Linked DNA regions of Homo sapiens. The protein of the gene in region 6 interacts with the protein of the main gene of each other region in a biochemical or structural test. Each region holds a gene or a part of one and is shown on either strand. Other genes may lie near its edges.

Region 1 (3,500 bases), on a different chromosome or scaffold from region 6:
TGTCAGCTCATCCTCACGCCCTGCCTGGGCCACACACGAAGGATTCAGGACTTGGCTGTCCCCCACCCTTGCCCATCAGAGGTCCCCACCCCCATTCATACCTGATAGCGAAATACCACGTGTGCAGGGCAGGGGAGGGCCCTCGTGGCCAGGGCTTGGGGGGCAGGCTCCTCAAAGAGCTCTCCCGTCTCCTCACATTCCTCAAAGTCAGAAAGCTCAGCATCCTCAGCCTAGAGGGGCAAAGAACAGACCTCATATGGGGCCCACTCTCAAGCACTGGTTCTATCTCCCACTCTTCCATCTTTCCTCTAAAGGACACCATGGATCCTCCAAGGCAGGTGCACCCATCCACTCACCATGTACACAACCACAGTCACCACAGAGCAGGATAATACTAACAGTAATAGAGTTACAGTAATTGAGTGCATACTATGTGCCAGGTACAATGCAAAGTATCTTGTGTATATTGTCTCATTTAATCTTCATAATGACCCAGTGTTAATAGTTTTGCACAACTATTAACCTCACTTTATTTACAAGGAAACTGGGGTTCAGAAAGGTTAAGTCACTTTTCGAGATTGCACAGCTCATAAGTGGAGTGGCTGGTACTCAAAGCCCTTACAGACTGCCCCAGAACCCTACTTCTTAATCATTCTATTATGCTCATAATAAAAATGTACTGAGGACTCTATGCCAGAAATTATGCAAAGAATGATATATGATGATTTCACTTAAGCCTCGTAATAACCCTTTGAGTTAGGCACAACTGTGATTCCAGTTTTATAGGGTTTGCCTTCCACTGGAGTTTTTCCCTTCTAAGTAAGGATGGGTAGTGTTGGGGGAGGAGCTCACGGTTGGAGAGAGGTCCCTCTGGGACAGCCGAGCCTCACTGAGCCGCCGCTCCTGCTCCACCTCATCCTGGGCCTGGGTCATGGCTGGCTTCAGCCAGCGCTCCACATCTAAGCCAGCCCCCTGCAGCAGGGCCAGCCGGGCAGCCCCCTTCACCTGGCTCACCTGCCATGGGGAGGAAGTAAGTTAGTGGAACCTGGCTGACGGCAGTGTTTACTCTCTGCTTCTCCCTTCCTTCCTCCCACCATCAGAAAGAGGAGTAGAGGGAGTGGGGCTTGCCTGAGAAGGTGGGATCTCTAACCTCAGGGGTGTGCCTCACCTGTGCCCGGCGGATGCTCTCTCGCACTTCCTGTAACCTCTGTTCTATGCTTGGAGCCTCCCGCTCTGAAGCCTGCTGCCGCCTCTGCTCCAGTCGTTGCAGTACCTGGTTGGGAAGGCAGAGAACAGGGGTGGGTGGAAATACTGTGGGGCATGACTTACTATGGGACTGGTACTTTGCTAGTTGCATCACATACATTATGTCATTTAATCTTCCCTATGAGGTGGGTGCTATTATTGGCCCTACTTTAGTGATGAGGAAATTGAAGTCCAGAGAGGTTAAGTCACTCCCTTACCTGGGGCTACAGAACTAGGAAGCAACAGAAGAGAATTTGAACCTATGTCGGTCTAGCTCCAAAAACTGTGCTCTTAACTATTGTGCCACACTGTTACCTTAAAATACCTTTCCCTCCCCTCTGTAGCTCCATGACACCCTCAATGGCTCCAAGATCCCCTCTCTCAGCTCTTCTTGCTGAGACAAGAAGGTGCACATGACACCTGTGCCCCCCCACCTCACCCGATGCCCATGGTTCTGGATCTTGTAGTCACGGGCAGCTCGGCTGGTCAAGCGCTGAACCTCTTTCTCCAGGCCACTCTTGCCAGCCACGCCTTCTGCTCCCCACTCCAGGACACACACCTGAATGGGTCAGGGGGTGCTGTGAGGAGGACCTGAGGCTGCTCCTTCTCTCCAGTTCCCTCCTTTTTCCACTCTATCTTGACCTCCAAGGACAAGGACAAAGAGAAAGGGGCACATGCCTACAGTCATGGACACAGGTAATGTGGACACAGAGATACAGAGCTTCAGAAATGGGATCCAGGTCAAGGGACAGAGGTAGAATGAAAAGGATGGCGCAGTCAAGTGACTGAAAGGTGGACTGAGGTGTGTTTTTTTGTGTGTGTCCTGTTGGGAGGGAGGTGAGCTGGAGTTCTGAAACCCCCTCTCCACGGTGTACACTCACTAAGTTAACACAAAACAAAGATAATGGAGGAGGCCTAAATCATAATCGCCTTTATATGTGGCCTGGTTCCAACAAGCAGGAAGATCTCACCTGATCAGTCCCTGCTGGCTGAAACTGCTGAGGTGGGGTGGGGGAAAATACACCAGGCTCCTGAAGAAACAGCTTCAGGTCTTGCTCCCAGCTTACCTAGGGGTTGGGAAAAGTCAAAGTCACTCATTCACTGACTCACTCTCCAACCCTGTCCCTAGCACTTCTTGGAAGAAAAAGGACAATGTGTGAAGCAAAGAGGGCTGCATTGGGAGGGAAGGGTAAAAAGGATCCCCGGGGAAGCTCTTAGAGGCCACAGCCCTCACCTGGGAGGTTGTCTGCTCCCCGCGGTGGGCATGCTCCAGGATGACCTCTGCGGCTTCCAGCTCAGTGTGGCTCAGGGAGGTCAGGGGGTCCCTCAAGTGCTCTGACAGCTCACTGACCAGGGCCTAGAGAGAACCCCAAGATACTGACACCACCCTTCCCCCAGACCTCTACTGTAAAATAGGCTCGTTCCAGATTTGACAGGTGATGGGCATGAGGTATAGGAAGGAGAGAAGAAGACATTCTTCATGAGAAAGGCCCTCGTGTGCAGAGCACTTAGAAGTTTAAAACACGTTCACATCCATTCTCTCCTTTGAGCCCCACTAGTGCTATAAGATAGGCAGAGAAAGGGTTATCCCTGATGAGGAATCTGGGGTTCGGAAGAGTTTAAGTGTACTGTACAATGCCATGCAGCCAGCTAGGAGCAGAACCAGAGTGCATGTATGTATCATCTACTCACTCTAAACAGACAAGATCCCCTGCACCACCCACTGTCATGGGGATCAAGAAGCAGGGGGAGGTCCTCCTTTCCCTCCCTGCTGAGGGATAGGGGTGTCTGGGTTAAAACTGGCCTTGAGCAGAGCTGGCAGTTCCTCCTGGTAGTAATGGTCGAGGTGGGCATTGGTAGCCACCAAGTTAAGCAGGTACTCATTGCGGGCTGCTTGCAGCTGCTGGGAGTACTGGGCTGACTGGGCGGACAGCTAGGAGGGTAAACTGATGTCAATAGGAAGCCCTAGACCCCCAGAGTCCTTCCAAGACCAATTGAGAAGCCAGATCCAGAATGGATTCTCACATTATTGAGTGCTTACTATGTGCCTGGCACTACACTAAAAATGTTGCATACACACAACTCCTGCTCAAAATCTTCTAGTGCCTTCTGCACGCATTTAAAATAAAATCCACTGTTCCTTACCATGGTCCACCACGTTCAATATGAGCTGGCCCCCGCAATCTCTCTGACCTCTTTTCAAGCGCTTGTTCCCTTGCTCACAGTACTCCAGCCATACTGGCCCTCTCTCAGTT
Region 2 (3,500 bases), on a different chromosome or scaffold from region 6:
GATTAACATTCTTTGATATCTGCCTTGAATCATGGAATTGGAATATTGGGAAAAAGTATTAGTAATTTCAAAAAATAAACTAAACATAACTGCTGGAAGGAGTACTTGAAAATTCTGATGGAAGTCATAAATTACTAATATATCTCCTTCAAGCTACACTGGCATAGACTACAGCCTTATTTAGGTCTCTCCAAAGAATCCTACAGTGGTCACTGGTGCCCACATGCTTTCCTGTTAAGTAGGGTATCTACAAGTACTGTTAAAAACTTTTTTTTTTTGGCTAGGTGTGGTGGCTCAAGCCTGTAATCCCAGCACTTTGGGAGGTAGAGGCGGGCGGATCACTTGAGACCAGGAGCTTGAGACCAGCCTGGCCAACGTGGTAAAACCTCGTCTCTACTAAAAATACAAAAATTAGCTGGGCGCGGTGGCACATGTTTGTAATCCCAGCTACTCAGGTGGCTGAGGCACGAGAATTGCTTGAACCCGGGACGTTGGGGTTGCAGTGAACCAAGATCGCACCACTGCACTTCAGCCTGGGTGACAGAGCGAGACGCCTGTCTCAAAACAAAAAAATAAAACACAACACTTTTTTTTTTGTTTTAAATCTAAGAGAAACCTAAGCTAACACAAAGCTCCGGACCACGTTTTTAGGCACAGGAGCTGAAACACGTGCTTTGGCGCCTGAGGGCCTGGCTTCCTGACTGGAACACTCGATGCGTCTCTCTGGGCATCAGTTTGCCTGCAGTAAAACAGGGGTTTTATGTACCACAAAGGGATATGAGGGCTACATGCGAATGATACAAACCTCTCTGCACAATGCCTGGCACATGGCAAGTGATTAACAAAACAGTAAAACATTTAAAAGAGAGTTGTTATTATTATTCTTTTTAGCTTTCCTGTGACATTAGCAATGAAACCTTAATATGTCATAAATTGATAAAGCTAGAAGTAATGAAAACAGTTTGGGAAATCATTAAATAAAATAAATATTTCACTTATTAACCTTGTAAATCAAAAATCCTTTTTTTTTTTTAAGTAAGCTTCTCAGTTAAGATCCAAATAAAAATAACTGAATCATATCCAAAACTTAGGAGATCACTGGAAAGGGAAAAGGCCAGCTGCCTCTTGGTAGGGTATATACTTTGTATTAATGTATACTTCTACCACGGCCCTGGTTCCCTGGCTCCCCTTTAAACTTACTTGTTAAGGGGAATTTTCATGGATGAGGAACTAGCACGACTGTTTCCTCGCTGAGCGCCGCCTGCATCAGCTGACTCTGAATCCTTAAAGTAGGAAGAGGATTTGGGCCCATCCCAGTCTTCATCCCAGTCATCATCATCACCAGTTGCTAGAGGTGAAAATGGAAGATCATCAGTTAAAAAAAAAAAAAAGACCAAAATAAAAATGAAATTACTTAATTTTCTGACAGTAACTACCTACTGGGCAAATCAATTTTTTTTTGATGGAGAAAAGGGTATAGTATAGGAGTATAATATGGATGTTAAGAGTAAAGGCTGTGTAGTCAATTTTAAGCCTTGAATTACAGATTCTTTTAGTGCAAAAGACAAATCAGAAGCAACTTAAAGAGGGCTATCAGATTACTTTTAAATTTTTGACACGGGCACCGAGATGACACAGTGGAGAAAGGGCAGTCTCTTTAGTAAGTCGTGCTGGGAAAACCAGGTATCTACATGCAAAAGAATAAAACTGGACCTTGTCTTACACCACACACAAAAATCAACTTAAAATAGATTACAGACCTAAATGGAAGACCTGAAACCACACAACTCCTAGAAGGAAACACAGGGGAAAAGCTCCTTGGCGCTGGCCTTGGCAAATGTTTTTTTGAGTATTACACCAAAAGCACAGGGAACAAAGTCAAAAATAACAGGCGGGACTACATGGAACTAAAAAGCTTCTGAACAGCAAAGGAAACAATCAAAATGAAAAGGTAGCCTATGGGCTGGTGTAGGGAGACCCCCTGAAACTATTGCTATGGAATAAAAGATGAAATGCTCCTGATTATTGTAAATACAAAATTGCATGCAGGATTGTGTAAAGACAGTGCCAGGTGGGACTGCCAGAATGAGCCAACAGCATGTGATGTGCTTCCCCCTGCAGAGAGCCTATGAATGGATGTGCAGTCAGGGAGGTTTCACATCACCAAGATTCCTATCCCAGAAAAGCAGATATTCATAGCTCTGGGAATGGAAAGTGACCCTTGTAAAGAGCCTATAAACAGACACATGGGGGCACCGTCCATATGGATAAGATAGGGCTATAAACGCCCTCATCTTGCCAGGGCTCTTCTGGGCCTCTTTAGGGTTAAGGCATACTCCCTTCTGAGAATTTCTGGTCTAACAGGTTGTCTAGCTTCACGTCCTGTTTCTACGGATTGTTTGTAACCAGCTTTTGCTGCAACTGTTACTGCTGATTAATATCTTGCTAATCATAGGTTATGGAAAGACTGTGTTTCTGTTTTAAGGCTCTGTCAGAAATTACTGATGCATACACTATATTGTAAATTCTTATCTCTGTATACTGTACTTCTGCATACAGATGTTATGTTAAAGAATTACTTCATCCCCATGTGACCATCTCACCTCATAATCAAATGACCCTAAATCCCTCACTAACCTACCCCCGCCCTCACTAAACTTAATAATAAATGCTGGTATATCCAGTGCATTGTTGGCACTGCAGGACCAGAAGGCAGTGACCCCCCCGGACCCAGCTTTCGCTATCTTGTGTGTGTCTATTATTTCTCAACGGGCCGATCCGCCTGGGAACACAAAGAGAACCCCGTTGCATTGCGGGCTGCTGGCCAGATCCCGCAATAGGCTGGGAGAAAATATTTGCGAGCCATGTATCTGATAACCTGTTAATATTCAAAACATATAATGAACTCGCACAATTCAATAGCAAATAAAAAAAGCTCAATTAAAAAATGGACAAAGGACCCAAATTGACATTTTTCCAAAGAAGACCAAAAAATGGCCAAGAGGTATATGAAAATGCACTCAACATCACACACAAAGAAAAATACCACATGGATCTTATTTACATGTGGAACTTTTAACAGGTCTTTAAAAAAATCTAAAAAACTTATAGAAGCAGAAAGTAGAAAGGTGGTTACCAGGGGCAGGGAGACGGGGAACTAGGGAGATGCAGGTCAAAGGTACAAAGTTGCAGTCATGTAGGATAAGTCTAGAGATCTCATGTACAGCATGAGGACTACAGTTAATGATATTGCATTATATTTGGGAAACCTGCTGAGGGAGATTTTAGGTGCTCTTACCACACACACACCCACAGGCACGCACTTGCACATATACACGCGCACACACACACACTTAGGTAATCATGTGAGGTGAGGGATATGTTAAGCGCTTGGCTGTAGTAATGATTTCAGTATATACATGTATATTACAACATCACGCTGTATACCTCAAATATAGATAATTTTTTTTTTGAGACGGAGCCTCGCTTTGTTGGCCAGG
Region 3 (3,325 bases), on a different chromosome or scaffold from region 6:
GTGAGGTCATTGCCACGGATGTGGGTTACAACTTGGAATGCTTGAGGCTGCAGAACCCCTCCCCTTCTTGACTGAGCAGTAAGGGTTCCCTGCTGTGGTGCAGGAACATGTGGGCAGAGCCCTGGGTGTCTCCAGGTAGAGGAATTTTGGTTTCTTTTTGACCCCAGGTTGAATCTCCAAATTGTCACTGCCTTGTGTTCTCCTCCAGTAGGCAGAAGGAGGTGATATTGTCTGTTGAGATCTAAAGTCCTTTATGAAGGTCCTCCTTCTCCTTCCAGGAGGGAGCCATGGATTTGCTGCGGGAGCTGAAGGCCATGCCTATCACGCTGCACCTGCTCCAGGTAGGTCCCTGCCTGCCCCAGGTCCAGGACAGCTCCTGGGTGCAGCCCAGGGGATGGCAGTTCTGAGGGCACCTGGCAGGGCTTCCCCACCCTCCCCACCAGGCCTTAGTTGGCACAAATGCCTGTTCCTGAGGAGAGGGTCTCTGCCTTTCTCTGGGCTCAGTGGGACAGGGAGGGGAGTCTGAGGATAACCCATCTTGTCCTCCGTGGCTGAGGCTCCTGGGTTCCAAATGGGACAGTCGCCATTGGGAGAGGCCTCTACCTCCCTGGGAGGTCCCGGGCTCCTGTCCTGTGGGGGCCACCAAGGCTCTGCCAGGAGAATCTGACCCCTAGGGTGGGCCCCTGCCTCCCCCAACCCAGACCACTTGCCTCGTAGTCCACCCGAGTCGGGATGTCTGTCAACGCCCTTCGGAAGCAGAGCTCGGATGAGGAGGTCATTGCACTGGCCAAGTCTCTCATCAAGTCCTGGAAGAAGCTCCTGGGTGCGGCTCAGGCGGTGCCCACTGAGTGCTGGGGCAGGGGTCCCAGAAGTGCTGCCTCTTGCTGGTCAGCACAGTGTAGAGTGCTGGCAGTGTCCACCCTGAGCCAGGTCGCTTGGGAGTGGGGCAGTGGCAAACCCAGACCATGAAGCGCCCAGCTTGGGGCTGGCAGTGGATCAGTGGGTGCCTGTCAGCATTGGCTGGGAGGTGTGGCCTAGGAGGCCAGGGTGTGTGCTGGGGGCAGGGTTCCAGGTAGAACAAGGAGAGAAGAGAGTTGAGGCCAGGACTTGAACTGACAGCACTGAGAGACTGGGGTGAGTTGGGAGGTCACACAGAGGGGAAGGTCATGGCCAGGAGGCTGGGAAGTGCCGGGAGAGGGGAAGCGGGAGGGAGAAGGCAGGGCCACCTCAGCTACTCAGAGGGAACAGAGGGGCAGCCCCCTGCCAGGGAAGGGAAGGGCTGGGCTGGGCTGGGCTGGACTGAAGGCTGCCTCTTCCTGGAGACAGTGGGGTGACTGGGGTTGCAAAGATGCTGCTGTCTGGGATGGAGGCAACCCTCCTAGCTCTGTCCACACCCTTGTGAAACAGTCTCTCTCCAGCCCTGTGTGGCCCTCAGGCTGTGCATGGCACAAGCATGTCCTGGTCCCCAGCCCTTGGGCCTGGCTCTGGGCTTTCAGGAAGAGCCTTCTTGGGGACATGCTTGGTCTCTCTGGCCAGGACAGGCAGGAGGGTGGGCCCCAGAGAGGCCCCAGAGGTGGCCTTTGTGAGTGGGTGCTTGTACGGGAAAGGGTTCTGGGGAGGCAGCCTCAGGACTGCAGAGATGGACAGGTTGCTGGGGAGGGTGAGGACCTGTTCACAGAGGCTGGGCAGCCTCCTGGCCCCTGGCTCCCCTGGCTGGGTGAGGGGCTGGGGGCGGGGGCTGGGGCTGGGGCCGTGTTGGTGGTCGGGCTGAGGCTGTACCTTGGTGGTGGTCTGTGCCCCTCCCTCCTCTGCCTCCCCTTGATCAGCCCATCCCCGATCTTTCCTGCAGATGCTTCCGATGCCAAAGCCAGGGAGCGGGGGAGGGGCATGCCTCTGCCCACGTCCTCGAGGGATGCCTCAGAGGCCCCGGATCCCAGGTAGCACACCTGGAAGGCAGGTGCACACACTTCTGCTTCCCAGCCTGTTTCCTTGCCAGAGAAAGGGTGCCAGTCTCCATGTGCCTAGGCACTGCTTTGAGGCTGCACACAGAGTCGGTCAGCCTCATGCTGGACACCAGCCTTGTGGTGTGTCCCGCCTGCACTGACCACTTGAGATGTGGGTCTGTGTCCACCTGGCTGTCAGCCAGCCATCCTGGCCTCTTCCTCTGCCAAGAGCTGCTGTATACCCTGAGTGGGCCTGTGGGAGCCCCCTGGCCTCTTCCCCCAAGGCCCCCTGCTGGGTCTGGTTCTTGCTGGCCCACTCTGGCTTCCCCCTCAGCCTCACTCAACGACGGTCCCTCCTTCCTGCAAAATTCTGCCCAGAACCAAAGGCGGGGGCCAACTCCCCTCCTGCCCTGCATGTGCACGTGTGGTCACTGCTGCCAGGGGGTGATAAGGGCTCTGTGGCCTGCAGCTGGGAGCTGGGGGTGCTTATTGTGGCAGGCTATAGCCGAGAGATGGCTTTGCCCTTGACCACACTGGGTTGTGGTGACTGGGCCACCAGGAGCTCAGGGACACCTTTGCAAGTTGATTTTCCTCCAGGAAGCTGCCTGCTTCTGCCAACTTCCACAGAGGGGATGAGGGGAGGGCTAGGTGGATGCAGCCTGGTCGTTGGGCAGCCCCATGTTGGGGTCCAGCCCTGAGGGGCATCCTTCTCCCATTCTGTACGTGCCCAGGGGTGTCGTCTGTGACAGCAGAACCTGGCCTTGGGCGGCCCCGCCTTGTCTCCCCCCAGACAGCTGTGGGTCTCTCCCTCTCCCTGACCAGGCAGCAGCTGCAGCTGCCCTCAGCAGAGTATTTGTGTTGCGGCCCAGTGGGTGGGCACCCCAGAGGTGGCAGGAACTGCCAGGTTCATTCTGATCGACTGGTAATGCTGCCCAGATGCTGACTGCTGGGTCTGGGATCCTGTTCCCACCTGGAGAGTACACCCTGACCCACTGGGGACCTCATGGCCCTCTCCCTCCTGGCTGCTGGGCACACCCCATGGACATCTGGGCTGGACTCAAGATAGGCAGGGCCACAGGCCACTGTTGGACTCTGGCAGAGTAGAACAAGCAGGGGTTGGTGGGGGATTATGCTGTGGCACCTGCTGCTTCTAGGACCAGTGTCTCGCTGGGGTGCCTGCAGCCTTGAGTCTGAACCCAGCTGGCCCTGGCTCTCTGCAGCCGCAAGAGGCCGGAGCTGCCCAGGGCACCGTCGACTCCGAGGATCACCACATTTCCTCCGGTGCCTGTCACCTGTGATGCCGTGCGCAACAAGTGCCGCGAGATGCTGACCGCTGCCCTGCAGACGGACCGTGAGTGCGGCCGGCCCTGGCTCCTGACACC
Region 4 (3,500 bases), on a different chromosome or scaffold from region 6:
GGTGCCCTAGCGAATTGCAACATGGCACTACGAGTGCCACATCTCAATACCACCCTCCCTGCAACGCCCAGTGTGTCCCTTTCCCTGAGTCCCACCCCCAGATGGATTAGGGAAGATCCCTCCTCTTGCCTCGACTCTCCCCAGACAAGTGCAGCTCCTCTGGCTCACACGCCATCTTACCACTTTACCCCTCACAGCAGCTCCACCAACACACTCACTTCCTAGTCTGCCCCTCAATCAACACTCCCTGAATGTCTACAACACAGCAGACGAAGTCCTAATCCCTGCCAGGAAGAGAAAGAACCAAAGTCAGGCAAGGACTGGAAAGGGGGAAGCAGGTCCCACTTCTCAGGAATTTAGAGCTAAGATATCCACTCGGCTCTGAGCAGCCGTACCCTGAAGGCCAAGAGCAAGAACAGACAGGGACGTCCAATCAAGTCGCTGCTGAAAAGCCAGGCACGGTTTGGGGTTTTCTTGGTTGGTTTTGTTTTTCGCTTTATTTCACCTACATGTTTCTCGGTCTTCTGACCTCTGTCTCCCTGGGGTCCTTGGTGACAGAGAATCTCAGCCCACGTGGGTGGGGCTCCGGCAGTGCTGCTGCTGGGAAGGAGAAAGGAGGCTCCTCCAGGCTAAGCCACTTAAGGAGAAGCAGAAAGGGCCTGAGGACAGGTGAGGCCCATCCTCAGAGCAAACAGGGCAAGGGCAGCCCTGGGGATCTGGTGCTCCGCTGATGGAAGGGGACTCCGCTGGGGAGGTGCAGGGATGGCCCTGTGCAGCCAGGCCAGGCAGCAGAGGCAGACACTGCCTAAGGCTGTTCGAGGCTCTCTCCCTGACTCTCCAGGCGCCAGCCCCAGTGTGAGGCTGAGGGCACGCTGCCCCCCGCCTGGGCATCGGGGTCTTTCCATGCTTCCACCCCGCTGCCTACACTTACTGCAAGTACTCCTTGACATTCCTTTCCTCTCACTGCCTCAATTCTCTCTTGGCTTTGAAATGTCCTACTTCACAGCAACTGCCTCCTCAGCTGGAAGGAAACTCATCAGAATCACACTTCCTGCATTACAGCCAAGGTATTGTGTGTGTGTGTGTGTGTGTGAATGTGCGTGTGAATGTGAGTGTGTGTGCACACTCAGGCACAGCTATTCTGCAAGCTCCATTTTGTTTACAACATGTCAACCCAAATCAATCACATTGCTGTCTGAGAGAGTCATTTCAGGGGGCAAGGCATTGAATATTTGCTCCCATGACACTCACAGAGACACACACACACACACACAGAGCAAGTCAAAATGTAAAGCGTATTCTGTGTTTCTGCCCTAGCATACACTAGAAAGTGTTCTATGTAAAAAATGTGCCAGAGATTTCACAAAGTGGGGAGAGAAGGGGAGACGTGAACAAGTATGTCTTTAGCACCTCCTGTGTTTCAAGTTTTAGGCCCTGTACGAACGAACGAGAGAGAAAGCCCAGGAGCAGAGGCAGAGAGGAGGGGAATTCTAGTTTATTAAGACATACGCAGGTCGGGCGCAGTGGCTGACGCCTGTAATCCCAGCGCTTTGGGAGGCCGAGGTGGGCAGATCGCTTGAGCCCAGAAGTTCGAGACCAGCCTGGGCAACATGGCGAGACCCCATCACTAAAAAAAAAAGAAAGAAAGAAAGAAAGAAAATTAGCCGAGCATGGTGATGCACGCCTGTAGTTTCAGCTACTCAGGAGGCTGAGGTAGGAAGATGGCTTGAGCCCAGGGGGTCAAGGCTGCAGTGAGCCATAAATGGGCCACCGCACTCCAGCTTGAGTGACAGAGCAAGACCCTGTCTCAAAAAAAAAAGACATAAACATTTCTGCACAGAAAAGCACAGTCTGAACCTCTTTAATAGAAAAGCTGGTAAGTGTGGGAAAATGCTCTGAGGAATCACCAGCCACCTAAGAGATCCCCAGAGGGGTGTCCCTAGGCCAGAGCCTTGCTGTAACCAGTGACTTGGTTCAAGAGTCTGCTGAAGGACTGACCACCAAATTATTTCAACCCCCCTCAAGCCCAGCAGAGCCCACAAGAGCTGGATGGCAGGGTGGGAGCAGACGGCAGGTGGTCCCCAAAATAGCAACCCGATGGCGCCCAAGGGCTTTTAAAAACAGCTGCATGGTTACCTCAGCCTGGCTGTAAGCAGAGTGCAGGAGCTGTGGCCACACTTCCTGCCCAACGGGAGGACAAACGTATACATTCCCCAAGTCCCAGCTGGGGGCAGGGCAGTGGCGGGGAGGCGCAGAGACCACAGAGGGAATGATGTCATAGGCTACAGCTCACTCTGATGTCTGGGAGAGCTGTCTGGGCTCAGCCTGGAGGGTCCACTTCCAACCAGCGCCTCGGGCTCCCAACGTTCCCACTGGCCATGGACTGTAAACCAGGTGGGCTTCCCGGAGTGTCATTAGGAGACACACACAACCAGGTCCAAAGCCCTGCTCTGCCACCTACTAGCTGTGGGCCCTGGTCAAGCTGCATGACCTCTCTAAGCCTCTGTTTTCTTCCTGATAAAATAGGAATAGTATCACCTACTTCCAACCTTCCAAGCTGGTTGTAAGCATTACATGACCTAATGCAAAAGTAGGCAACTTGGGGCTTGGCATATGGTGCTCATTAAGTGTAAGCTGTGTTGGCCAGGTGCCGTGGCTCACACGTGTAGTCCCAACACTTTGGGAGGCCAAGGTGAGTGGATCACTTGAGGTTGGGAGTTTGAGACCAGCCTGGCCAACAGGGCGAAACTAAAAATACAAAAATCAGCTGGGCATGGTGGTAGGCGCCTGTAAACCCAGCTACTTGGCAGGCTGAGGCAGGAGAATTGCTTAAACCTGAGAGGCGGAGGTTGCAGTGATTGAGCCACTGCACTCCAGCGTGGGTGTCAGAGCAAGACTCCATCTCAAAAAAAAAAAAAAAAAAGTGTAAGCTGTGTATTATTCATCACCAATATATTGTCAGGGGTCTAGGCTGGGGAAACCTGAATGATCCCTACTTTCTGGAACTGGAAAACAGAAACAGCAGCAGCAGAGTCCCTGGACACTCAACTTGGGAGCTTCACATCATGAAGATACCTTCTTACCTTAATGGAGAGGATGAAAACGTTCACTGCTCCCTGGGGATGCATTGGTGACAATGAGTTAATACCCTTAATTCATTATGAGCTCATGCAAAGTGACAAGAAAAATCTTTAGGCCTCAGTGAAAATAAAAATGGCCCCCAAAGGTGGAAGCAACCCAAGTGTCCATTGACAGATGAATGAATAAACAAAATGTGGCGCACCACGGAATATACGATGGTATACAGTGGAACACGATTCAGCCTTTAAAAGGAAAGACGTTTTGACACATGCTATCACATAGATGAACCTTGATGACATTTTGCTAAATGAAGTAAGCCAATCACAAAAGGACAAATATTGAATAATTCCTCTTATATAAGGTTCCCAGAGTAGTCAAAGTCATAGAGACACAAAGTAGAATGGTCGTTGCCAGGGGCT
Region 5 (3,877 bases), on a different chromosome or scaffold from region 6:
AAAAAAAAAAAAAAGGATTCTTATTATTTTTTTATTTTGGTTCTGGTTAGAAAAGACAGGCTTTCCAACACTAAGATGGATTGTAAGGGCTATTTTATGCAGCTGTTCTGGGCATCCCCTAATGACAGAGTAAATTAGACAGATACAAATTTCATTCAGTGGACTTTTTGTTTGACTCTAGGCATCTTCTATCAATGGTAAAGCTTAGAAGATAGAAAATACTACTGTGATTCCTAGATGTATTTTTTAACATAACTTTTAATTTTTAATTAAAATATAAACTAAATGCTATCTATTTTAATAAGCAATTACATATATACTGTTTATATATTTTTAAAATAATGTTGATGACATAATTATTATAATTATCCTATAGTAAAATTTCACATTATTGAGTGATTACTAGTACTGGATACTGTGTGAACTTAATATTTTATTGATTTTCACACAATTTAATTACCTCTGTTTTCTTTTCCTTCTTTCCCTCTTTCTTTCCTCTTTTGACATTTATTTATGTATTTATGTATTTATGTATTTATTTATTTATTTAAGACAGGGGCCTCACTCCGTTGCCTGGGCTAGAATGCAATGGCATGATCACAACTCACTGCAGCCTCGACCTCCCAGGCTCAAATGATCCTCCCACCTTAGCTGGTGCATGCCACCACACCTCACTCATTTTTTTTCTTACAGTCATAAACTTATTCCAAATCCATGTCTTATATTTCCAGAGGCAGGGTGTGGAGAAATGGCCAGAGGAAGCAAAGCTAGACAGGACTGAGAGCAGCCATCCTATCCAGAAAACTTCGAAGATGCAATTGGCCAACTCAAAGAATGAGGTTTACATAAATGAAAGGACCACTGTTCTAATAAGAGAGACAGACAATAAATAGGCAATGAACAAACCAGAACAGAATAGAAAATGAACACACTGGAATAGAACAGAATAAATTAGGACCCCACCTATTGTGGCCTACTGTTAAAAATAGCGATTAGAGAGTAGTTGAGAAGGTGGCACCATGCACAATAGTACTTGCACATTTAAAAATGAGTAATATTTGGTATCTTAAACTGAGATGATAAGTATCTACCATTGCCCAACTCTAATGGACTAGTAGTGGCTTTCCGCAAAATGACAAGGCACTGCCTCTGGATTCTTTAGGAAGGAATTTCACCATCACTCTTACAGTTCGCACATATGAAGGAGAGTAAAAGAGGCCAGGCACAGTGGCACATGCCTATAATCCCAGCACTTTGAAAGGCATTAGGGGGAGGGTTGCTTGAGCTCAGGAGTTCCAGACCAGTCTGGGCACATAGTGAAACTTCATCACTACAAAAAATAAAAATATTAGCTGAGAGTGGTGGCACATACCTGCAATCCCAGCTACTCATGTGGCTTAGGTGGGAGGATCCCTTGAGCCCAGGAGATCAAGGCTACAGTGAGCCATGATCGTGCCTCTGTACTCCAGCCTAGGCAACAGAGTAAGACCCTGTCTCAAAATAAAAAATAAATAAATAAATAAATAAATAAATAAATAAATAAATAGACCCCTACTTGAAGCAATCTCTTTTCCCTCATTCCATAACGTACTGTAGTGGTTAACCTTAGGCAATCAAGAGACTTGCAGTCTCTAGGCTTTAGTTTTGCCCTCTGTGAAATGGGTTATTGTAAGGATTCAATTAGTTAATATTGGTGAAATGCTTGGAGCAGTTCCTGGAACATAGTAAATTTTATATTTAAATATTGTTTAATTATTATTGTTGTATCCCAGTTAATTTTCTGAATAACTTCTCTCCCCCACGGGACAGAGAACTTCCAGAGGTAGCAGAAAAATTCTCTAAATCTTCTGTATTCCCAAGCACAGTATCTGACACATAGATATTTGCAATTAGGGGCTTATGAGTGAGTTATTGATCTTCAGTGATGCCGTGGTCTACACTGCGACTCCTCCCAACAGCCATCAAAATCTATCCAATCTTAACATGGAAAGCATACTGACATTGGTATTGGCATATATAATGTGTGGGTACCAGAGCATATCCTGCAGTCATACACATTACCACCTCTATTACGCAGATTCAAACTCTGAGCTATGAGAAGTTAGATGCTTCACCTGTGATTGCACAGCAAGCTGGAGGGAGTCACAGGACAGTCAGTCCTCTGCATCTTTGTATTCCGCAACTACAGATTCAACCAACTGCATATCAAAAATATTTTAAAAAATAGAAATAAAATATAATGACACGACAACAAAAAAAAGTACAAATTTTAAAACACAGTATAACAACTATTTGCATTGCAATTGCATTGTATTAGGTGTTACAAGTAATCTAGAGATGGTTTAAAGTACATGGGAGAATGTGTATAGGTTACATGCAAATACTACTCCATTTTATATCGGGGCTTGAGCATCCATGGGTGTAGGTATCACTGTTGGGGAGGGGAATATTATGGACCTAATCCCTGCAGATACCAAAGAACATCTATAAATACATTTAGAGAAATGCATTTTGAAAATAAGCTGTTTAATCCCTGCATGTTTAGGAATGTGTTTGGAGACTTTAACAAGATAAAAAGAACTCAGGACAATTAGAAGTTACTTTTGCTAGGCACCCCCAGTGTTTCAAAAATTGGCCTTACAAGTTTTAAAGTTACAAAGAAAAGCCTAAATTGCTTTAGAATTTATCTATGGATCTTATTGGATCCCATCTTGTTCTCTTTCCCCTGAAATCACCCTCAGATTCTTCCTGAAATCTGTGATGCATACCCACAGCTATAAATATTTTTTAATATGCCACTTGATTTTTAAGAAGCTTAAAATTGCAAAGTATTAGCATTTAGTCTTTACCTGGAAGTCATTCAAGCTAATATATAGTTTTCTCTGTTTTCCCTCCATCCTCTTTAAAAAACCTTCCTCCTACCCAATCCAATCACAGGAGTTCTGGAGAAGGAACGAGCCAGACGCCTCATTCACAACTACAATCTCATTTACAACCTGTCCCTGAGCCCTCAGAAAATCGACCAGGCCTTGCGCAGATTCCGTTCGGGAGAAAATATGCTCTTGGAGCCAGCACTGCGGTACTTAAAGGAGCTATGATAACAAGCCCATATTGTGAGAACAGATGTTTCCCTTATCTCCCTTTTTACCCAGACACATGTTTCTCCCCAGCCTAAGTGTAGTGGCGGAGGCATTGTCAGAGTGGAGGCCGATGCAGCTATTGTAGATGCTTTTGATTTGGACTTAGTTTCTGGCTATGATGCTCACTCATAAGCAGTTCAAAGTGATCAGAGGAAACCTAGTTTTATCTTTTGATGTGGCAAGAACCCAGCTACTTAGAATCTCCTTCTGTTTTAATAAAACTTATTATTAATATTACATGTTTGATTTTTTCCTACATTGCTAATCAAACTATGTTGTTTCAAACCCCACAATTCCACATAGTAAAAAAAACATTAAATGTTGCCACTTCCCCACAGTGCCTGGAACCTAGTAGACCTATGAACATCATTTTTGGATAGGTAAATCATCCCTTCTCCTGGTCATTATTCTAGGAAGGATTTCCATACCATAAGAAAAATAAAAGTATTACCAATACACTATCTTAATCTTAAGCAGTAGAAGAAACATTTCAAGTGAGGTTTTCTGAACAAGTCCAATATTTTCTGCAGTACAAAACTAAACAACATTACACTGTCTCCAGGGGTATTTTCCAAAAGTCCAAGATAGAAGTTTTGAGGAAGGACTCCTTGGGACAAAGCGTTTTGGGAATAGGTAACATCCTTTGCTCTGCCTGGACAGGAAAACCAGGTGGAACTTTCCATCAGCTCCCATAGTTCTTCTGTTCTTAACATCCCCCCTGACTTTGCACCACTCAC
Region 6 (3,500 bases):
ATGAAGTCTCAATGTTACAAAGGAACATAAAATTATAGTCATTCACATGTAAAAGATATCGATACAAACCACTGAATTTTTTCCCAGAACCAGTGAATAGTCTAATTCATGACAAAAATGAAGTGTCCAGAAATAAAAGAATCCTAATCGTTTTGGTACTTCAGGAAGTAAGGAACCCTTTATCAAGGAGACCTGTTGGCCCTTCTGAACATAAACTGTGAGCCCTTCTCACAATCCATAGAAAAACTGTCAGATGAATCTAAGACAGGAAACTTTGAAGTATCCTTTTACAGATATAGTGTGTAATCTAAAATGTTCTCAAGAGTATCATAGATCTATATGGTAAAATCAAAACAAAATAAAAATATAAAGTGGCTAGCAAATAAGCTTGAAAATGGTCCTGTTTCTCAGCACCAGCACAGAAAGAATGTGCTTGCTATGGATTTGTCACTCACAGGCTGCATCAGACTAAGCACTATGCTCTCATTCTGGGGTCTTGATCCCCACTCCTTAGCGCCTCGGTCAGTCCATTGCATTTCCCCCCATATTTGTCTATTATTTTGTGACTCTTTTTCTTTAGAGCAGATAATCCTGGGGCCCATAATTTAATTATAAATAGTATATTTGACACTGTGACAGAACTATGTCAAAGCTAGCAGAGACTCCAATATGCTCATTTTCAATAATGTAGTATTTTCATTCGAGAACATTCTTTGTAATACCATGAGAAAACTATGCACATTATGTGCCTATTCTTTTATGTTCTGAAGACAAAATTTTCTTGATCTGAAAAGATGGTGCTGAGAAGCATTACAAATTTTTTTCTGCATTTTAAAAAAATTCTCTATTCAGAGGCAGAAAGGAAGAAAAATCCTTCCTCTGTGACACATGAAGTGCAAAGATAATTCTTTTGGGAATAAAATTAAAAACCACAGAATTTACCTTAAAAAGTGCACGCAGTCTATTAGTCCACAGAGTTTTTCAGTTTTCTTATCCCACACTTCCACAACAGGGCTATTTTGCTTAGCAATATAGAGAGCAGTGTCTACCACCACTGTTATGATGTTGGAATCACTGAAAGCTGCATAAGAAAACCTACAGAGAAAAAAAAATAGAAAGTCATCACTATTTGTTTTCTTCTTAAAATTTCTACGTGTAATACAACCTTATATTAGTTCTTAATGTAAAAACACTATTTTGAAAACTAAACAAGCTAGACTATTGCAATTATTTCATATTCTTCCCTAACCATTCTGAATTGAATATATAACATGCTTTGGTACTTTACTTACTTTTGGTTACTTTATATTAATTTCTTGTGATAATAAAATAAAGATTATGTCCAATGTTTACTTTGGTCTTACTTTTAGTTTCAATTCTATGTGGCTCTTTGTAGAATTTTGTACTATATCTAAATTTCTGAAGGAAATATTATATCTGTAACTTTTGAATGTTCTTGCAAAACTTTGTTTCATGAATGCTCAGAAAATTAAGTGTTAGCCTTTTATACCTAGAGTTATAAAATATAAAATGCTGAAATAAAATTTAGTTGCAGTGTCTTCAAATTTTAAAGCAAGGGATATCTTTGCAGTTAAGCCAGTCAAATTATAGAAAACAAAAATCCACATCATCCAAACATAAACAGAAAGTAAAATATTTGCCATTTTCCCCTTTTAAACATAAAGAAAAATTACGAACACCTTAAAATATTTCCCTTTCAACCTAAGACATCTGGCATTGTACATATTTCACAAACAGATTGGCTACCTTGGGCCACATCAGCATGGCAAACTCCTACTTGGCCTTTGAGGATGAACTTAAATGTCGGCTCCTCTGGATTTCTTCCCTGACCTATCAAAATAGACCAACCAGTCCCTTTTCCCCACTGGTGTCACTGTCATATTATAGACCTTATTAAATATAAAATTGTCTTTATTAGTGCATCCCTCACACTAGATTATGAGTGTAATTTCATAAGGATGAGGACAATGTATTTTCTACATACCCCTCGTCCAGTAAACAGTTGCACAGATAAGCACCTCTGATATAATCAAGCAGTCTGTTAAGTGGGGGAATAGAAGAAGGCACTACAGTATGAATGAACAACGAGGAATATGTAAAAATAGTCAAAATTGCATTTAAATCAGATAGATAACATGAAAATACCATAAAGATTTAACAATCATTAGTATATCCTAGAGTAGGAAGATTTTTTTTCCTCCCCCTTTTCTTTCTATTCTGGAAAAGGAGGTAAAAATATGATGTGTTGTCAGAGAGCCACTACGCTTTAGGTAATTCCTTCTTGGATATTTGCTGTATTTAATAGAAAATAGTTCCAATTAGGACAAAGTTTTGCATGGAATTTCCGTATTTTATAAAATACTTTTGTGTGTTATCTTGCTTGATCCTTAATAAAAAAACATAAAATATGATAAATCTCAATGTTTTTAATAGTAGAAAGAAACATGTACAAATGCTAAATAATTTGCTCAAGGTCCTATGACTAACATCATGCTTGCCGACCTAGGACTAAAAACATGTTGCAGACCTAGAACTCCAAAAGTCCTATGGAGTCTTCCGGCTTCAAAGGCAGTCATCTTTCATTACCCAACATGCCTCTCAGTCGGTGTGTACTGATGATGATGAGGGTACTGATGATGAGGCAACCCCTGATTAGTGATGTGATGTCTGTTTTGTGGGGTAGAGACCAAGGCCACAGGAGATACTTGTTCAGAAGAGAGCAAATATTTATATTTAAGTGTTTATGCATCTAGGTCCCAATCTCTTTTGGGAGATGAGCATCTTTGAGAGCTTGATCTTTATGGATGCTCTCTAGTAAAGCATCTATGCTCCAAATCTTATATGGAACTTTAAAGAGTTAACTGATATCCATAATCCCATAAAATGTGCTATGAAATAAAAAAATAAACTGGAGGCCCTTTCTTTTTAAAGGTTTTCAGGCTTGTATAATTGGGTTAAAAGTGGAAATTACAGGAAGGGGAGCAAAGATGAAAAACTACCTATCAAGCACTATGCCCACTTTCTGGGTTGTGAGTTCAGTTGTATTCCAAACCTCAGCATCACGCACTATACTTTTGTAACAAACCTGCACATGTATTCCTGGAATCTAAAATTAAATTTGAAAAATAAAAATAATAAAAGACATTTTTACATTCATTTTTTAAAATGTGGGTATTACAGAATGAGAATGAGTTGATCCAAATGTTAACCACATACTAGTAAATAAATATGTAAAGACAGAAATAAAAATCCTCATTCATGGGAACTTATAATACACTGCACTCCGCAGTATATCTTAACCTCAAATATACTTTAGAATCACTTGAGAACCTGAAAAAAAAAATCTGATCCCCATCCCAGGCTTAACTGGTCTGATTTAATTGGTCTGAGGTAGGGCCCAGGTATCATATTATTTTCAGCTACCTAGTGGTTTCTAAATGCACAGCCAATGTTGAAAGCCAGTAGATTTAGTGGTATTG
Region 7 (3,500 bases), on a different chromosome or scaffold from region 6:
CCAGCTAATTTTTGTGTTTTTAGTAGAAATGGGTTTCACCATGTTGGCCAGGCTGGTCTTAAACTCCTGACCTCAAGTCATCCGCCCTCTATGGCCTCCCAAAGTGCTGGGATTACAGGCATGAGCCACCAGGCCTGGCCGACATTTCCAGTCTTGATTAATTTTAATTCATTAAAAATGTGTCGCATGTGGCCAATGGCTACCATCTTGGACAGTGTCCGTCTAGAGAATACAAAATCCATTCTTGCAGTTGTGCTGAGCTGGAGGGCCAAGCCCATCACGAACCAGACGTGGGAGTGACTATCTCGATAAGAAAGTGCCCAGTGCCCAATGCCCTGTGGTGGAAAGAGCTGGTCCCAGGTGCTCAAGGCCATGGGCCCCATTTGGAGCCAGAAGGTCTAGGGTGAAGTCAGAGAAGACGTCCCCTGCCCATATCCCATTTCCAGCCTTGCTGAAAAGGGCAACAGAGGCCTCTCCCTGAGGTCCCTAGCCTGCGAGACCCCCATTCTCTGCCTGACCTCTGTGTTACTCCTTAGTGAACAAGAAACCCAGAGAGAAGAGAAGCCCAAGACCAATGTGCCGACCTTGGCTTCCAGGAGAACAGAGCCTTGGTCCTAACCATCTAGCAGGGTGGCTGAGGGCCCTGCCATGAAAGAGGCACACCAGGATGAAGCAAGAGGAGGTGTTTAATGAGTTCTGGTTCAACACAGAGGCCGCCAACGGGGTCTAGCTATGAGTCTGTCCTGGGACCCGTTCCCACCAGGCCCCTTGTGGGCAGTGGCCACCATCCCTCCCTCAGGCTGTCCTGGCCCTCAAGGACCCCATGGCAGGGCCTTTTCCACCATGGCCTCCACTGTGCTGCCATCTCTTGGGAACAGGGGGTCATCCCATCCTCCCAAGAAACACTTCCTCAGGCCTGGCCCCGATGGGCTCAGGCACACCTGGCGACATCAGAAATGGGGCCCTGGAGTCCAGACCACAGGCCAGTAGTTTTGGGGGGACAGCTCCTCCACCTCCTCCACCGGCCTATCTGGGGGGCTCTGGGTGCCCAGGGGAGCCGGGCACCTGAAAGGGACAAAAAGCACAGCTGAGGCTCAGCCTCTTGCGCTCACTGGTCAAGTGGCAAATTTTGGAAAAGCCAGACCTCAGAGGATCCTTACCAGTACGTGGGTGAGTACGTGGGCCCAGCACAGGGACAGGGGCGGGGACAGAAAGGTCCCTTCGCTGTCATGGGGCTGTCACGGGGCTGAGCCTGGCTCGAGGAAGCCCCCTTTTCCAGAAGAGATGTGAAACAAGACATACAATTTCACAGATTCCAGAGCTCTGGGTACGGCCGGCCAATGCTGCTCCCCACCCAACCCCACCCCTGGGACTCTTAAAAGAGGGAAACAGAACAACTGCCTAGCCAGACCCAGGGGCCCATGACCAAGAAGAAAGCAAGCACCATGACTGGGTCCAGGCTGGCCCGAGGGGCCATGGTGCAGGTAGCCACCTGGGATGTGCAGAACAGGAGCAGCAGGACGGTGTAGGCAGCAATCAGGGCAGCAGGGGGCGCCGCCAGCACCACCCATGCCCTGCTGCGGGCACCCAGGAGGGACCCCAGGTGAAGCCAGATCCTCCTTGTTCCGACGGGAGACAGCGCCCTGCCTGGGCCCTGCTGCCCATGGTGGCACAAGCTGTCAGCACGGATGAGGCTGGAGGGCTCTGGGACCCCAGTGAGGTCAACCACACTGTCCAGCTCGTACCTCCCGTCTGTCGGGAGCCCCTCCCGCCACCAGCTCACTCTGGCCCTCTGAGTCAGGGCCTTCCCCATCCAGTCCCCCAAGCCCGCCTTGGCCTCCAGGTGACTCACGAATTTCAGCATGTTCCAGTCAAAGACGTAGTCATAGGAGAAGCCCTGCCGGTGGAAGAGGTTGCGGAAGAGCTGACGTAGGTAAGAGTAGTCGGGCTTGTCGTCAAACCGCAGGGAGCGGCAGAAGTTGAGGTATGTTGAGAATTCGGCTGGAGGGTGTTGCAGAGGATAGAGAAGGCCACTGTGAGGCCCACGCTCCCAGACCCCCTGCAGCCAGCACTGTCCTAGCCACCCACTGTCCCTAGATACTTCCAATCTGTGAGAGGCAAGAAAAGGAGGCAACAGAGCCATGGCCTTCCCTATCCTACTGTGATGAAAGCCTAGCCTGCCCGTGAGCAGAGCCTCTGCTGCTTTCAGAGCAAGGGAAGACCTGCGAACAGTGGCCAGGAGCCTCTGCCAGGTAGCCGGATCCAGGAGCCATCCATGCCCACAGCTCTTCCGCTGCCCTCGCCAAGCACCCTGGGGCCCACAGATCAATCGTTGCCATAAATTCAAAGGACTGCAAGAGCCTGACGGGACCTTCTAACACAACCTAAGCAAGAAGAGGAAAACTTCCAATTCCTCCTCAAAAACACTGGGGAGAGGGCCCTTGGGAGATGAGGCAGGAATGTAGGCCGGGAAGCAACAGGTGTAACAGCCAGGACAGGGAAACCGGGCCTTCTGGCTGTGCCAAGGAGTGGCAAAGAGCCAGGGATTACTGCTCAGGTGCCAAGGGCTGTGGGGCAGCCCAGTGTGGGCTTTGTTGTTGTTGTTTTTGAGATGATGTCTCGCTCTGTCACCCAGACTGGAGTGCAATGGTGCAATCTCGGCTCACTGCAACCTCCGCTTCCCAGGTTCAAGCAATTCTCCTGCCTCAGCCTCCTGAGTAGCTGGGATTACAGGTGGGGCTAATTTTTGTATTTTTAGTAGAGACAGGGTTTCACCATGTTACTCAGGCTGGTCTCGACCTCCTGACCTCATGATCCACCTGCCTTGGCCTCCCAAAGTGCCAGGACTGCAGGCGTGAACCACCGCGCCTAGCCCCAGCGTGGGCTTTGTATGGCCTCACCTTTCCCTTAGACAGTGCCTCAGGGGCCCCCAGGCATGTCCCCTCCCACTGGGCTACTCACAGGGATAGCCTTTGCAGAGGACCTCGATGGGCGTTGACATCTTCTTCTCGCTGATCCGTTCATACTTCTGGCGCTTGGTGGCTGCTTTGAGCCCCTGCCAGGGCAGGGAGCCCAGGTTGAAGTACATGAGCACGTAGCCCAGGCTCTCCAGGTCATCTCGACGGCTTTGCTCTGCACAGAGAGTCAAAGACTAGGTGAGGGACAGGGGTCCACTCAGGCCCCTAACTCATCCTCTGGGTCATGCTCCTCACAATGCACCAGGACCCTCCTGCCCCCACGTCGGATGTTGCTCACTGCACGCATTTTAAACAGGCACTGCTATTATCCTCCTCCTACAGAGAAGAAGCCTGAGGCAGGGCCTTCTCAACTTAATTTGGGCCTAGTTTTTCCAGTTCAGGCACTTAATCATTCAATGACTATGAGAGGGCACCTACTGCCCCCTTGCCTGGCCCACCCCGTGGAGAGGTCACAAGCTTCAGCATCAGACAGGGCCGGGGTCAAGTCCAGCTTTGGCATTAGCTAAGCTGCATGACCTTAAG

The links.
Region 1: the proteins of LRRK2 (region 6) and FCHSD1 form a complex in vitro, tested with the Homo sapiens proteins (one large-scale study listed by BioGRID and IntAct).
Region 2: the proteins of LRRK2 (region 6) and SNX9 interact on a protein array, tested with the Homo sapiens proteins (one large-scale study listed by IntAct).
Region 3: the proteins of LRRK2 (region 6) and TCEA2 form a complex in vitro, tested with the Homo sapiens proteins (one large-scale study listed by BioGRID and IntAct).
Region 4: the proteins of LRRK2 (region 6) and VASH2 form a complex in vitro, tested with the Homo sapiens proteins (one large-scale study listed by BioGRID and IntAct).
Region 5: the proteins of LRRK2 (region 6) and C1orf87 form a complex in vitro, tested with the Homo sapiens proteins (one large-scale study listed by BioGRID and IntAct).
Region 7: of the proteins of LRRK2 (region 6) and CSNK1E, one has a biochemical effect on the other in vitro, tested with the Homo sapiens proteins (one study listed by IntAct).

What each region holds. Positions count from the first base shown.
Region 1 is NC_000005.10:141,644,919-141,648,418, forward strand, and holds part of FCHSD1 (F-BAR and double SH3 domains protein 1), read right to left. Parts: intron 3,179-3,500; coding exon 3,050-3,178; intron 2,603-3,049; coding exon 2,480-2,602; intron 2,313-2,479; coding exon 2,217-2,312; intron 1,805-2,216; coding exon 1,685-1,804; coding exon of another isoform or gene 1,680-1,684; intron 1,274-1,679; coding exon 1,169-1,273; intron 1,015-1,168; coding exon 853-1,014; intron 231-852; coding exon 102-230; intron 25-101; coding exon 1-24.
Region 2 is NC_000006.12:157,899,746-157,903,245, reverse strand, and holds part of SNX9 (sorting nexin-9), read right to left. Parts: intron 1,349-3,500; coding exon 1,201-1,348; intron 1-1,200. UniProt on the Homo sapiens protein: Involved in endocytosis and intracellular vesicle trafficking, both during interphase and at the end of mitosis. Required for efficient progress through mitosis and cytokinesis. Required for normal formation of the cleavage furrow at the end of mitosis.
Region 3 is NC_000020.11:64,066,198-64,069,522, forward strand, and holds part of TCEA2 (transcription elongation factor A protein 2), read left to right. Parts: intron 1-49; exon of another isoform or gene 50-135; intron 136-208; exon of another isoform or gene 209-278; coding exon 279-341; intron 342-717; coding exon 718-823; intron 824-1,849; coding exon 1,850-1,937; intron 1,938-3,163; coding exon 3,164-3,294; intron 3,295-3,325. UniProt on the Homo sapiens protein: Necessary for efficient RNA polymerase II transcription elongation past template-encoded arresting sites.
Region 4 is NC_000001.11:212,957,041-212,960,540, reverse strand, and holds part of VASH2 (tubulinyl-Tyr carboxypeptidase 2), read right to left. Parts: intron 1-3,500. UniProt on the Homo sapiens protein: Tyrosine carboxypeptidase that removes the C-terminal tyrosine residue of alpha-tubulin, thereby regulating microtubule dynamics and function.
Region 5 is NC_000001.11:59,989,894-59,993,770, reverse strand, and holds the end of C1orf87 (uncharacterized protein C1orf87), read left to right. Parts: intron 1-2,937; coding exon 2,938-3,098; 3' UTR 3,099-3,377; downstream 3,378-3,877.
Region 6 is NC_000012.12:40,360,997-40,364,496, reverse strand, and holds part of LRRK2 (leucine-rich repeat serine/threonine-protein kinase 2), read right to left. Parts: exon of another isoform or gene 1,313-3,500; intron 1,096-1,312; coding exon 943-1,095; intron 1-942. UniProt on the Homo sapiens protein: Serine/threonine-protein kinase which phosphorylates a broad range of proteins involved in multiple processes such as neuronal plasticity, innate immunity, autophagy, and vesicle trafficking.
Region 7 is NC_000022.11:38,296,934-38,300,433, forward strand, and holds part of CSNK1E (casein kinase I), read right to left. Parts: intron 3,133-3,500; coding exon 2,962-3,132; intron 2,002-2,961; coding exon 1,853-2,001; intron 1-1,852. Other genes in the region: TPTEP2-CSNK1E (casein kinase I), read right to left, coding at 1,853-2,001, 2,962-3,132.